2 linked regions of the Homo sapiens genome follow. The protein of the gene in region 2 interacts with the protein of the main gene of each other region in a pairwise test. Each region holds a gene or a part of one and is shown on either strand. Other genes may lie near its edges. The genes, in order: ENTPD3 and TMEM106A.

Region 1 (7,281 bases), on a different chromosome or scaffold from region 2:
CCAAGGAAACCAAGTGTAATGGCATGACTGTTCAGTAATCATAGCCATGATGTTTTCACTGAGCTCCAAGGAAACCAAGTGTAATGGCATGACTGTTCAGTAATCAGGTGCATTGCAGACTTTCTTATTTAAACAAAAAGTCCCTTGAAAGTAAAGTCTTAGTTAAGGGGTGTGCAGATCTGGCTGGAGGAGAGGACCCATTTGCATAAGGAGACCGAGGCTTTCTGAAAAAAAAAAAAAAAAAAAAGAAACTAATTATCCAACTCTTACTCTCCAAGAAGTAGACCAGGGTGGGCTACAAGGCACCAGAAATCCAGGCTGATGAGCAAGGCTCAATGAGGGTTAAAAGGGAATGATTTCAACACAGACTGGGCCAGTGGTTTTGCTTTGGAGAGTAATGGCTGAGCATGGGAGTGTAGACTAAAATGGCTTATGATCTTGGACCCAGTATGGGGAACTAATGTGGGCTGAGCAGGTCACAGTGGAAAAGCCCATCCTTAAAACCTTTAGACTGTGCAGAACCCATCTTCAACAGTGACATCACATGGCTGCAAGAGGCAGTACAATAGTATTGATCATTGGACTGAGAAGCTCTAAAGTTCTTGGATGGTTATGATTAGGGGTAGGGAGGGTGAAGCCTCAAGAGGAAGGTATTGGACTTCATGATGATAAAGCGGGGGACTGGGGGCCGAGTGAAAATTACAAGTGATGGCATCATGTTTACTCTTCAAGCTTGTGGAGCAAGTCAGACCAGTAACACAAGAGACTCAGACATTTTCGCCCCTTGACTGCATTTTAATAGTTCTGACCATAACCTCACATAAACCAGGGTTAGGCAAGCCAAGGTTAGATTTAATAGCCAGATACGACCTTGCATGAGAGTCCTCTGTAACATTTCAGAGCCCTCCAGACAGGCTGTTGTAGAGCTGGCCCTTTAGAACCAACTGTCAGCTGCACACGAAAGCAAAACAGGGCTCATGGTATAAAAAAATAAACATAACAAATAATTTAAAATCCCTCATATTTGCTCAACTTCATCACCTGCAATCCTCTTCAAAACAAAAAAAGAGAGATCTCTCCATATCCTGAGAAAAACTGCATGTGGAACACTCTCTTCCAAAGCTGTCATTCCGTTTCTGGTTCAACTGGCCCAGAACATCTGTCTTTTCTCACATTTAATCCACCCAATTAAGCAGAATGGACCTTCCGAGCTCATCTTCCTGTGTTTTACAATTTCCTGTCCCTTGCAATGGTGGCTAGGGTCTGTTACCAAGATTCAGAAGAGATTTAAAATCCCCTCTTTGAACTGCCTGCTGATTGGTGGAGGGTGTGTCTCCTGGTTCCTCCAAACCCTTGTTTAAGGCCACTGTTGTCTGTTCTCTTTTCTTTCCTTTACACCAGTTCTGCTATTTTCAATCTGTGTAACTATGGGAAGCTATTTGCCCTTTCTTTTCCTGTTTTCTCATCTGCAATACAGGGATAATAACAATATTATTTACATGGAGTAGTCACTGACAATTCTCTGCCCACATCCCCTCAGGCCTTACTACTGTGATGTAGAACTATCCATCTTCCACCTGCCTGAAGGCTTAACTAGTGGCCCGAGTCTACCTGATCACAAAATATGCCAGAAGGACTAGAGAGTTAACATCCAGGGAGCAGCCTCTCAGCTAATGACTGATGGAAGCTGGTGAATAAATATGCCCTTGACTGGGATATCTGGGAGGCACATGCCTGTATGCCCCTTGATATGGGACAACTTTGAGTTCTCTGTACCAGCTCACAGGGTCTCAAGCAGGACTGAGTCCCAGTTGCCCACAGTGCCGACCTGCTGCATAGCAGGCCCTCTCTTGGCTGCCTGACCCATCTCAGTTCCCTAGTCCCTCACCAGTGTTTCCTGGGATCATCCCCAGATGATCTACTTGCACGTATGTCTTTGACTTGGAGAGCCCAACCTAAGACAGTAGCATTCAACATGTGTGGTTTTCTCCTTCAACAGTGCCCTCTAGACTGCCCAGGGATCTATTTTTATCTACTCATTTTACTAGTCTTCCATCTGATTCCTCCATGTCTCTCCATTTTGAACAGAGGACTTGCCTGTTACTGTCCAGAACAAGTAGAAGCCATCAGCTGGCAACTGCCTTAACCAGCCCATTTCTAACATTTGTAGGATTAGAGACAAAATTTTATGAATAGAGGCTTCTGCCCTGTCCCTTTCCCAAACCTGTTCTCACAGAATAAAGAGCCCATGCACCTGTGTGTGGACAGTTCAGACCACACAGCTATGCTCTGTTTACACTCCCTGTAAGCAGCTGCCTCTTGGCCACCCCTCAGACCATTGGTGATGTCCACCTTCTGGAGGTCCACGAAGACCCTAGATTCTGAAGTCTTGGGCACCACAGTGTGTTCTAGAAGGGGAAACATGGGCTCTGGGTAAACACATTCGTTTGGGTCATAGAGAGAGATAAGCCTGAAGTGCAACTAGAGCTGGTCCTTCTGAAATGTGGGGCCCAGGGCAGGCAGCCCAGCTATCAGGGTCTAAGGGTGGTACTAGGCTTAACTCCTCTCCTTCAATTCAACAAACCTTCCCACATCTGCATGCATCCTCCCTACCTTTCCATCCTGTGCAAAGCAGGAAGTGTTCTCTTATCTGAGGCCAATCCCTTCCCTCCATTTGGGATCTCCATTCAGAACTCAGGGTCAGGGAGAAGTGGGAGGCAGTGAAGAGAGCCCTGGCCTTGGGAACAGAAGGGACCAGGTTTCAGTTCTGGACCTGTCATTCACTGACCAAACCTGTATTTTCTCACTTTCAAAATGGCAGTCATGGTGCTCGCTTTGTCCACCTTCTATGGTTGGCATAAGAACTAAGTGATGTAATGAGGGAAAAGCGCTGACTTAACTGAATAGCACTATACAAAGTGTAAAGAGATATTACTCTTAGTTGCGGCTGGGCACGGTGGCTCATGCTTATAATCCCACCACTCTGGGAGGCTGAGGTGGGTGGATCACCTGAGGTCAGGAGTTCAAGACTAGCCTGGTCAACACGGTGAAACCCTATCTGTACTAAAAATACAGCAAGAAAAAATTAGCTGGGCATGGTGGTGGGCACCTGTGATCCTAGCTACTTGGGAGGCTGAGGCAGTAGAATCACTTGAACTGTGGAGGCAGAGGTTGGGGCGAGCCAAGATCATGCCACTGCATTCCAGCCTAGGTGACGGAGCACGACTCCGTCTCACAAAATAATAACAATAAAATAAAAAATAAAAAATATATTACTCTTAGTTGCAGTTCCTTTTTTTTTTTTTTTTTTTTTTTTTTGAGACAGAGTCTCGCTCTGTTGCCCAGGCTGGAATGCAGTTGGCACTATCTCAGCTCACTGCAACCTCCACCTCCCGGGTTCACGCCATTCTCCTGCCTCAGCCTCCTGAGTAGCTAGCTGGGACTACAGGCGCCCACCACCACGCCCAGCTAATTTTTTGTATTTTTAGTAGAGATGGGGTTTCACCACGTTAGCCAGGACGGTCTCAATCTCCTGACCTCGTGATCCGCCCGCCTCGGCCTCCCAAAGTCCCAATTTTATATACAGTAGTTTGTAGAAGGCAGTGCCTGGAGCTTGGGAAAACACCTTCTTTTAGGCCTCAGCTAATATCTTTGGACAACTGGGTAATTTGCTTTCTTCTCATTATTGGGTGATTGCATAAGGTTTTTTTTTAATTTTTAATTCACATTATTCATGAGGGCTGAGATTCTTAAATAAAATATCCTATCAAGGAACCAAATGCTATTATATTATCTAATGGAGATTTTACTCTAATCTTTTAGAAAAGCTGCCTTAGAATGTTAGCTCAAACCCATCCTTAGAGTCCAAAACAATATTAGTTTCTTTTCTTTTAAAAATGTCTATGTATTTCAAATATTACCTTTGAATAGTCACTAACAGCAGGAAGATATGGAAAAGACTTGTGAGGTCAAGTGTAAATGTTAAATGAGATTCAAAGAACATGGCTGAATTACCTGGTCCCTATGGCACAGCTAAGAAGGGTTTGTACATTCTTAATGAGTCAAAAAACAAAGAAGAGTTATAAAACAGAGACTATAAATGGACCTCAAAGCCTAAAATATATACTATTTGACCCTTTATGAGAAATGTTTGCTGACCCCTACCCAAAATGATTGAAGGACTCATCAACTTGCTTCATCTTTCCCTTGTCAGCCTCTCATGGAATCACCTCCTGTCTCCAAGGGCACCCTCAGAGCCAAGCCTGGGGATATATTATGATTCTGAGCCTAAAGATCATTTGGGGATGGACTTGTTGAGAACTAAGAGGGGCCTCTGGGACTAAGCACAAGGTCCTGAGTAATTTTTTTTTTTTTTTTGCCGGGGGGGTGTTGTTGAGGGAAGTGTTGGAAGGAACACAGCACATGTTCTAGACTCAAGAGTAGCAGCACAAATAGAGCTCAAGGAGACCTTCTCAAGTTCTTGATTTTTTGTTCACTCAGCCTAGGCTAGAAGAGGTGCCTGGGTCTCCTGGTCTTGACTTCTTTTTTCCTTTTTTTGGAAAAATTTCTTTTTGGTAGAGATGGAGTCTCTCTATATTGCCCAGGTTGGTCTTGAACTCCTGGGCTCAAGCAATCCTTCTTCCTCGGCCTCTCGAAGTGCTGGAATTACAGACATGAGCCACTGTGCTCAGCCTCGGTCTTTACTCATTATCAGGGTTGTGTGGTTGGGAGAACAGATAAACTGGTCAAAATGGAAAGTGCACTAACCGGTAAATTTTTTTTTTTTTTTTTTGATAGAGATGGGTTTCACCATGTTGCCCAAGCTAGTCTCGAACTCGTGGACTCAAGCAATCCACCTGCCTCAGCCTCCCAAAGTGCCTTACAGGCGTGAGCCACCGCACCTGGCTGAACTGGTAAATCTTTGATAGCTATCTGCAACTCTTGGTTACAAATTTTAGCTTTGAAGTCAGAAGTCAAAGCAAGACTACACAGTCCTTGGAGAAGGTGTCAGTCACTACCCTCAATTTGTAGCCTCAAATATCACAAACCCAGCATGTCCAGACCTTCTCCCTTGCGTCTTACACTAACTTCTCCTGGCTTCAGCCAGAGATGGGGGGAAAGGATTTTCTGCTCTTCTAACTCATGGTTTTGGAATAATTGATTTCTTCCCCTTTATGCTCATTTCTTCCCTTTGTTGCCAGTCCCTTCACACTTACCTTCAGTCCTGGAGGGAGGACCTCTTGCTTGTGGATCTGGATGACAGTGATACTCACAAGTACCACAATACTCACAAGCAAGACCACCAAGGCAATGATGGTTGGAGTTCGGTAGAGGGCCTTGAGGCCTAAAATGAGAAGACCCAGAAGACACTTGAGGGGGAGGTAAAAACCAGGCACTGGTATTCTTTGTAGAATTGATGGACTGGCCCCATAATCAGGTGCATAAACCACCTTCTCTGGTGTTAGCGAGACCCACACTTCTAAGATGGAGTAGCAAATAAGCTCCCCTTCTCCCCAGTTTTGGGGAAGCACAAACAATACCTATTTGCCCTTCCTCACAAATTGTGTACTAAAACAGTGTTGCAGGGAGGGTATGCATGGTCTAGTTTTCTGATATTTTGGTTATCCCTGAGATGAATTACAATAACATTTGTTTTACTTTTTTCTTTTTCTTTTCTTTTTTTTTTTTTTTGAGATGGAGTCTCACTCTATCGCCCAGGTTAGAGTGCTGTGCCGTGATCTTGGCTCACTGCAGCTTCCAACTCCCAGGTTCAAGCGATTCTTCTGCCTCTGCCTCCTGAATAGCTGAGATTACAGGTGCCTGCTACCACGGCAGCCAATTTTTGTATTTTTAATAGAGACAGGGTTTCACCATGTTGGCCAGGCTGGTCTCGAACTCCTGGGCTCAAGTGATCTGCCTGTCTCGGTCTCCCAAAGTGCTGGGATTACAGGTGTGAGCCACCACGCCCAGCTAACATTAGTTTTAATGGAGATTCAAAAAATCTATTTTTAAAAAATTAAACCAGGTGATAGAATATTTCACTTAAAAATAATCTCATAGAATATTTCATTTAAAAATAATCTCAGTTAAAGAAAAAGAAATTAGGCTGGGCAGATGGCTGACCCCTGTAATCCCAGCACTTTGGGAGGCCGAAGTGGGTGGATCACTTGAGGTCAGGAGTTCAAGACCAGCCTGGCCAATATGGTGAAACCATGTCTCTACCAAGAAATACAAAAATTAGCCAGGTGTGATCATATGCGCCTGTAGTCCCAGCTACTCGGGAGACTGAGGTGGGAGAATTGCTTGAAGCCAGGAGGTGGAGGTTGCAATGAGTTGAGATCAAACTACTACACACCAGCCTGGGTGACAGAATAAGACCTTGTCTCAATAAAATAAAATAAAAATAAAAAAATTAGTACTATACTATACTGAAATGATTTCATTTATTTGAAGTTCAAAAGTAGGAAGGTAACAGGAATCAGAATAGTGATTGCCAGGGGGCAGAAGTTGGGGCAGGGATTCACTGAGAAGGAATATGTGGGCACTTTCTTGGGGTAATGGCAATGCGCTATACAGAGTGTGGAGTATATGGATGTGTGCATTTGTCAAAACTCATCAAACCTTTCAAAGTCCTTTGGAGAAAACTTGAAAATGAAAGCAAATCAGTGTCTTAGGTATAATTTCCTTTTAAAAAAACATTATAAACTTATAAATTGCCCTTACTATTCTAAAAACATACTTTTAGAAGGCAAGAACACCCAACTTAGGGGCACGACTTAAGATCTATCCATTTCACTGAATAGAAGTTATACCTAATTTTTTAAAAAGATAAAAAGACATTCAATGAAAATACTGACTAAATAATAATCTTGGGCTGGGTATAGTGGCTTATGCCTGTAATCCCAGCTTTGGGAGGCTGAGATGGGAAGATGCTTGAGGCCAGGCGTTAGATGCCAGCCTGAGCCACATAGTGAGACCCCGTCTCTACAAAAAATGAAAAAAATCAACTGTACATGTGGTGCACACCTGTAGCCCAAGCTACTCAGGAGGTTGAAGTTGGAGGATCCTTTGATCCCAGGAGCTCAAGGCTGCAGTGAGCTGTGCCGCTATACTCCAGCCTGGTGACAGAGTGAGACCTTGTCTCTAAAAAAATAATAATAATAGTCTTGGTAAAACTATTGGGACATCAACATAAATGACAACCAAATGGTTGAAATATGATGAACACTAATAGAAAGATCACTAGATTCATCGAATTCCAATATATATCTAATCAATTGG
Region 2 (5,948 bases):
CACCTCAATCACAAGCCCCGTCCGAGGCATCAGCTGCGTATTTCATTTTAGCCTACATAGCATTGCCTTTGGTCTGAAGGGGCCGTTTCAGTGCAACCCACGAAATTTCCTGATGAGAGCAGCTGGGGAAGATAACGGGATGGTGGTGGCACAGAACAGGAATAGTAAAATTGGAAGAGACTTTAGAGATACACAATGGGAGCAAGAGGGAGAGTGAGGTCCTGTGAGCAATCTCACGGAAAACAGAAGGGCAGGATATGTCATCAGTGGCTCAGAGGCCTGGGGAAGAAACCTTGCTGCCCGTTAGAACATTAAGGAAACAGTTTCTGCCAGGTGCAGTGGCTCATGCCTGTAATCCCAGCACTCTGGGAGGCCGAGGCGGGCAGATCGCTTGAGGCCAGGAGTTTGAGACCAGCCTGGCTAACATGATAAAACACTGTCTCTACTAAAAATACAAAAATTAATTTGGTGTGGTGGTGCATGTCTGTAACCCCAACTACTCAGGGAGTCTGAGGCACGAGAATCACTTGAACACAGGAGGCAGAGGTTGCACTGTGCCAAGATCATGCCATTGCACTCTAGCCTGGGTAACAGAGCGAAACTGTCTCAAAAAAAAAAAAAAAGAAAAGTTTGTGAAATAGGGAGTATCCACTAGCTCCCTTCCCACTCCCAGGAGACTTTTTTGAACACTCTTAAGTATAGTTTATTGAATACAATATAAATACTTCACATTTGGCAGTCTATACACAGCAGCTCCAGCCTGGCTTCCCTGGACTTTTGCGCTCTTGCCAACACCACCCTGACCTCAGCTTGGAGACAGCAGTCTCCTTCCTTCCCCTCGTTCCCCCAGCCAGCTAGTTACCAAGTTCTGTCACCACTTCTCCCTCTCCATGCATCCTACTTCAAAATTAGCTTTCCCTGCTCACCTGTGTTCATCGTTCTGTCTGAATGATAAAGAGACAGCCATCTTTTTTTTTTTTTTTTTTTGAGACAGAGTCTCGCCCTTGTTGCCCAGGCTGGAGTGCAGTGGTGCGATCTTGGCTCACTGCAACCTCTGCCTCCCAGGTTCAAGTGATTCTCCTGCCTCAGCCTCCTGAGTAGGTGGGATTACAGGTGTGCGCCATTACGCCCAGCTCTTTTTTTTTTTTTAAACGGGGTCTTGCTAATGTTGCTGCTCATGTTAAACTTGAATTCCTGGGCTCTAGAGATCCTCTCACCTCAGCTTCCTGAGTAGCTGGGACTACAGGTATATACCACTGCACCCAGCTGTAAGACCAAGCCACCTTTAATGAACAAATATCCTTCCTGTTCTGCTAAAGTACAGAAACTATTTCTACTAGGAGCCAGTGGGAACCTAGGGGTTATCTGGAGCTTAGCTCCAGCTAAGTGACAGGAAAGGGAGGGTCTAGACCAGTCCCTGCTGATGTGCTGCTCCACATTGTCAAAGCCCAAGGAGAGATGAGGCCTCTGGGACCAGAGAGGGCCCTGGTGCTAAGGTGGTGGTGGAACAGAACCCAGCAGCCTTCAGCTGGATACTGATAGCTTCATCTCCTGAAGGCTTTCAGATGACAGCAGCTGGACCCACCGTTTTACCTACCTGTGTCCACTCACATGGGCTCAGGATGTGGACTTAGAGGCTCTCCTTTAATAAATATCTTATACAATGATTCTGTCTTTGGCTCTGTTTTTCCTGTGCAGGCCCGCAGAGTGCCAGGTGCCTCTCTCCCCTCCTCTACTATTTTGGCTCCTGCTATGAAAAGAATAGTAAAACTACTTTATAGAGAGGAGACGCTTTAGCTGGAGAACAACTCTGTCTTCCTAGGAACCAGGGACAGTCAATAACCAGAAAGGACAGAGGGCTAAAGGGCCTTGGCTAATCTTACTATCAGATGGGTGGCAGACAAGTTACCAGAGAGAAGCAGACTATCACTTTTTCACATGGTCAAAGCAGATAGGCACAGAAAAGCATCTATGATCCCCTGAAAGTCCTTGGAGATGGCACTGGATATCCCCAAATTTTCTTATCAGAGGGTAGAAAACTTGAAAAGAGTCTTTTTTTGAGACAAAGTTTTGCTCTTTTGCCCAGGCTGGAGTGCAGTTGCACGATCTTGGCTCACTGCAACCTCTGCCTTCCGGTTTCAAGTGATTCTGCTGCCTCAGCCTCCCGAGTAGCTGGGATTACAGGCGCATGCCACCACACCCAGCTAATTTTTGTATTTTTAGTAGAGACAAGGTTTCACCATGTTGACCAGGCTGGTCACGAACTCCTGCCCTCAAGTGATCCACCCACTTCGGCCTCCCAAAGTACTGGGATTACAGGTGTAAGCCACTGCGCCCAGCCGGCAGGTCCATGTTTTAAAAGCCAGATAAAACTACAGCTCTCTCCACATTCAGACGGGACAGCCAGCCCTGATGGAGCTGGGGTGAAATGCCCCCTTCAGACTGACCAGGTGCTCAGTACAGAAAGGCCAGGTGCCACTCCAGGGAATCTAAGGTGCCTCAAGAAAATGCCAGGTCAGATTTTCCTCAAGAAAGACCAGCCAGGCACAGGCTCACATCTGTAATCCAAGTGCTTTGGGAGGCCAAGAAGGGAGGATCGCTTGAGCCCAGGAGTTCAAAACCAACCTGGACCAACAGTGAGACTCTGTCTCTACCAAAAAAAAAACAAAAAACTAACCAAGGGCAGAATCTGATGGCAGCCCCTGAAAGAATCTGGGGGAAACTGGAGGATATGAGTGTGTGTGTATGAAGTTAACTTCAAAGCAAGCTTCCTGTGCTGAGGGGGTGGGAGGTAAGGGTGTGATGAGGCAGGGCTTCTCCTTTGGCAAAGCCTCTGTAGTCCTTCCTTAGTCACCAGGGAGTTGTGGGAGATATAGACCAGGGTTGCAGGTGCCTGGAGTACAGGGACAGCAGACAGGTCATGGTGGGTGAGGGGTCAGCTGGTGGGGCACAGATGCGTTTCCTCGGCAGTCCACATATTCATAGCTCTGAAAGACCAGCTGCTCTGAATGGCTCAGGTATGAACAGGTCAGGGTGCCCCTGGAGAGGAAGCAGGCCTTGTTGCCATGGCTGGGAGGAAAAGGAAAGCTCTGGCCCCATTATACTGTCTGGGGGTGGGGAGCGGGGAGCTCCCTCATTTGCCCTTCCCTCTGGCTCCCCACTCTGCCAAGGTACCTGGGACAGCTGCCCCACCTGTTTTCCAGCAGCTTCCAGACAGCCCTATGCCTGTTGCCCCTAATAACTTATAGGCAAGGTGAGACTCAGAAAAGGGGCTAGACTTGCTATTCCCAAGAGCCAACAAAGATTCATGGGGTCAGCTTGGAAGACTCTCTGCCCATGAGGTGTAGCTGAGTGAGAATGAAGTCAGAAGTGAGAGCAGGGATACCAGAGCTCCAAGCTCTACTTACTGGATGTGCAAAAGCACATGGTGGACTTTGATTTCCAGCCAGGTACAGATTTTGCTGAGAGAGAAGAAAAGAGAACGTGGGACCACGTGTCACATGGAGCAGCCTGTCAGCTCAGAAGATGCCTGCAGGTCCCAGTTTCCTTACCCCACAGAACTCTTTCCTTCCATCAGGTGCCCCCAAAATGTCACTCCCACCCCTTCCCACCCTTCAGGTGAGTGTAGCAGCATGGCTGCACTATCACTCTGACCTCCACTCACTTGGCCCAGGCACATGCTGGACCCCCATTCAGGAGACAGACAAAACATTCTTCTTCCTCAGCAATGCAGGCTGAAGAGCCCAAGGTCACATATTGTAAAGATTAACCAAATTCCAGCCTGTTTTTCATTCTAATCAAGGTCCAAACAAGCAGAGGCTGGGGACCCTGAACCCTTGCTTATTACATTCTCGGCCATGGGAGGGCAGGCCAGATGCTGGCTGAAGAATTTGCTAAGCAATCAGGAAAGCTGGTGGGTATTAATTGGGTCCCTAAGCCAGGCAAGTGGCTAGGGGAGAAGAGATCAAGGGGTACTCACTATGTGTTTTCATCCCGTATCTTGGTAGCTACTGCGTAAAACATCTGTCAACCAAATGGGCACAGGGTTAGCCCCAACTCCAGCTGCCCCTTTCCCACTACCACACATCCACACACCAGTGGGCAGGGCTGGCCAGGGAGAGGGGAGTCACCTGTTCACTGGCCAAAGGGCCAATGTGTAGGAGAAGGTTGTTGGAAACCTGCCCCACCACGAGGGACAGGTGCAGAACCTCGAGGGTCAGCTGTGTCACCATAATGGGGTAGTAGTTGCCATTGGAGATGTTTAAGATATTCTGGGGATGAAGACAAGGGAAGGGAGGAGTGAAGATGGCCCATCCTTAGGAAAAGCCAAACAGTTGCAAAAGCCTGGCTGTCTGGCCTGAGCCCCATCTACCATGACAAGCTTCAGGTGCAGAGGATGAAAACTGGGAGCCCCTTGGAGGGGCATTGAATGGTGAGGGGTCAACTTTACGAAGTTAAGCTGCCTCAGGATCCAGGTCCATCCTGTACAGCTTCTTTCCATTCAGTCCTGTCCATCCAGAGAGTCTCAGGCACTGTCACCCCACTCCACCCCTGTGGTTTACTTATCTGGCCCGGATTCTGACCCCTTACTGTGTAGAGTCCCAATCCTTACCATCTGTCATGGAGCTCATGGTTGCTCCTACTTCTCTTCAGGCTCCCAACACCCTCTGGGTGCCATAAGATCTCTGGCTTCCCATGCCCAGGGTCATAACACTGGACAAAGGTTACAGCGAAGTATTGCTAGGAAGGGGGGTTTGGAGCCAAGGGCACCCACCCACCGTTATGTTGAGGTAGATATCAGCCTCATCAAAGGCCACTGTGGAGGAGTTGAGGCCTGCAGGCTGCACAATGACGGACCGGGGAAACAGGAAAAAGACGATGAAGGAGGAGGTCACCAGGCAGATGAGCACGGCCAGGAACACAAAGAGCTTCCTGTGGGAAAGCAGGACCCAGGATGGAGGAATGGAAAAGTCTGAACACCAAGGAAACTCGGAGAGGGGGTTCAGACACTCCTCTCCATATACAAAGCTTTCCCCTGCACACTACCCCAACAACATTTAGCTCCCCAGATGTGGCCCGGAATGAGTAGGAGCACAGGATTGGCAGGCAGGCAGCCTGGTTTCCACTCCCAGATCTCTGTTCCCATTGACCCAATAACATGGAGCAGCCCACTTAGCCTCCTTAAGTCTCAGTTTCCTTGTTGGTAAAAGGCAGATAATTGTACTGACCTCACAGAATTTGTTATCGGCTAATATATGAAAAAATACTAATCACAGGTCCCTGCACATGGCAAAAGCACAATGAATGCTAGTTATTATCACTAGAAGAAATAAGTCCATATTTGGAAGTTCTGAATTTTAACATTCAGAACAGGACACCATCCATCCAATTCAAAATTCAGATATGCATTAAAGAGATAGTACTTTGTTAGTATCTTATGATGTGCACTGCTAATTTCTTTTTTTTTTCTTTTTTTTGAGATGGAGTCTTGCTGTGTCGCCCAAGCTGGAGTGCAGTGGCACGATCTCGGCTCACTGCAACCTCCACCTCCCGGGTTCACGCCATTCTCCTGCCTCAGCCTCCTGAGTAGCTGGGATTACAGGTGCCTGCCACTATGCCCGGCTAATTTTTGTATTTTTAGTAGAGGCGGTTTTGCCATGTTGGTCAGGCTGGTCTCAAACTCCTGACCTCGTGATCTGCCCGCCTTGGCCTCCCAAAGTGCTGGGATTACAGGGTTTTTTTTTGTTTTTTTTTTTTTTTCAGATGAGGCCTCGCTCTGTTGCTCAGGCTGGAGTGCAGTGGCATGATCTTGGCTCACTGAAGCCTCCACCTCCTGGGTTCAAACAATTCTCCTGCCTCAGCCTCCCAAGTAGCTAGGATTACTGGTGTCTGCCACCACGCCCAGATAATTTTTCTATTTTTAGTAGAGACAGGGTTTCGCCATGTTG

The links.
Region 1: the proteins of TMEM106A (region 2) and ENTPD3 interact in binary tests that used the Homo sapiens proteins (3 or more experiments, as listed by UniProt).

Annotation. Positions count from the first base shown.
Region 1 is NC_000003.12:40,390,086-40,397,366, reverse strand, and holds part of ENTPD3 (ectonucleoside triphosphate diphosphohydrolase 3), read right to left. Parts: intron 6,417-7,281; exon of another isoform or gene 5,345-6,416; coding exon 5,217-5,344; exon of another isoform or gene 4,798-5,216; intron 1-4,797. UniProt on the Homo sapiens protein: Has a threefold preference for the hydrolysis of ATP over ADP.
Region 2 is NC_000017.11:43,214,772-43,220,719, reverse strand, and holds the end of TMEM106A (transmembrane protein 106A), read right to left. Parts: intron 4,933-5,948; coding exon 4,779-4,932; intron 4,272-4,778; coding exon 4,131-4,271; intron 4,024-4,130; coding exon 3,980-4,023; intron 3,462-3,979; coding exon 3,408-3,461; intron 3,040-3,407; coding exon 2,919-3,039; 3' UTR 679-2,918; downstream 1-678. UniProt on the Homo sapiens protein: Activates macrophages and polarizes them into M1-like macrophages through the activation of the MAPK and NF-kappaB signaling pathway.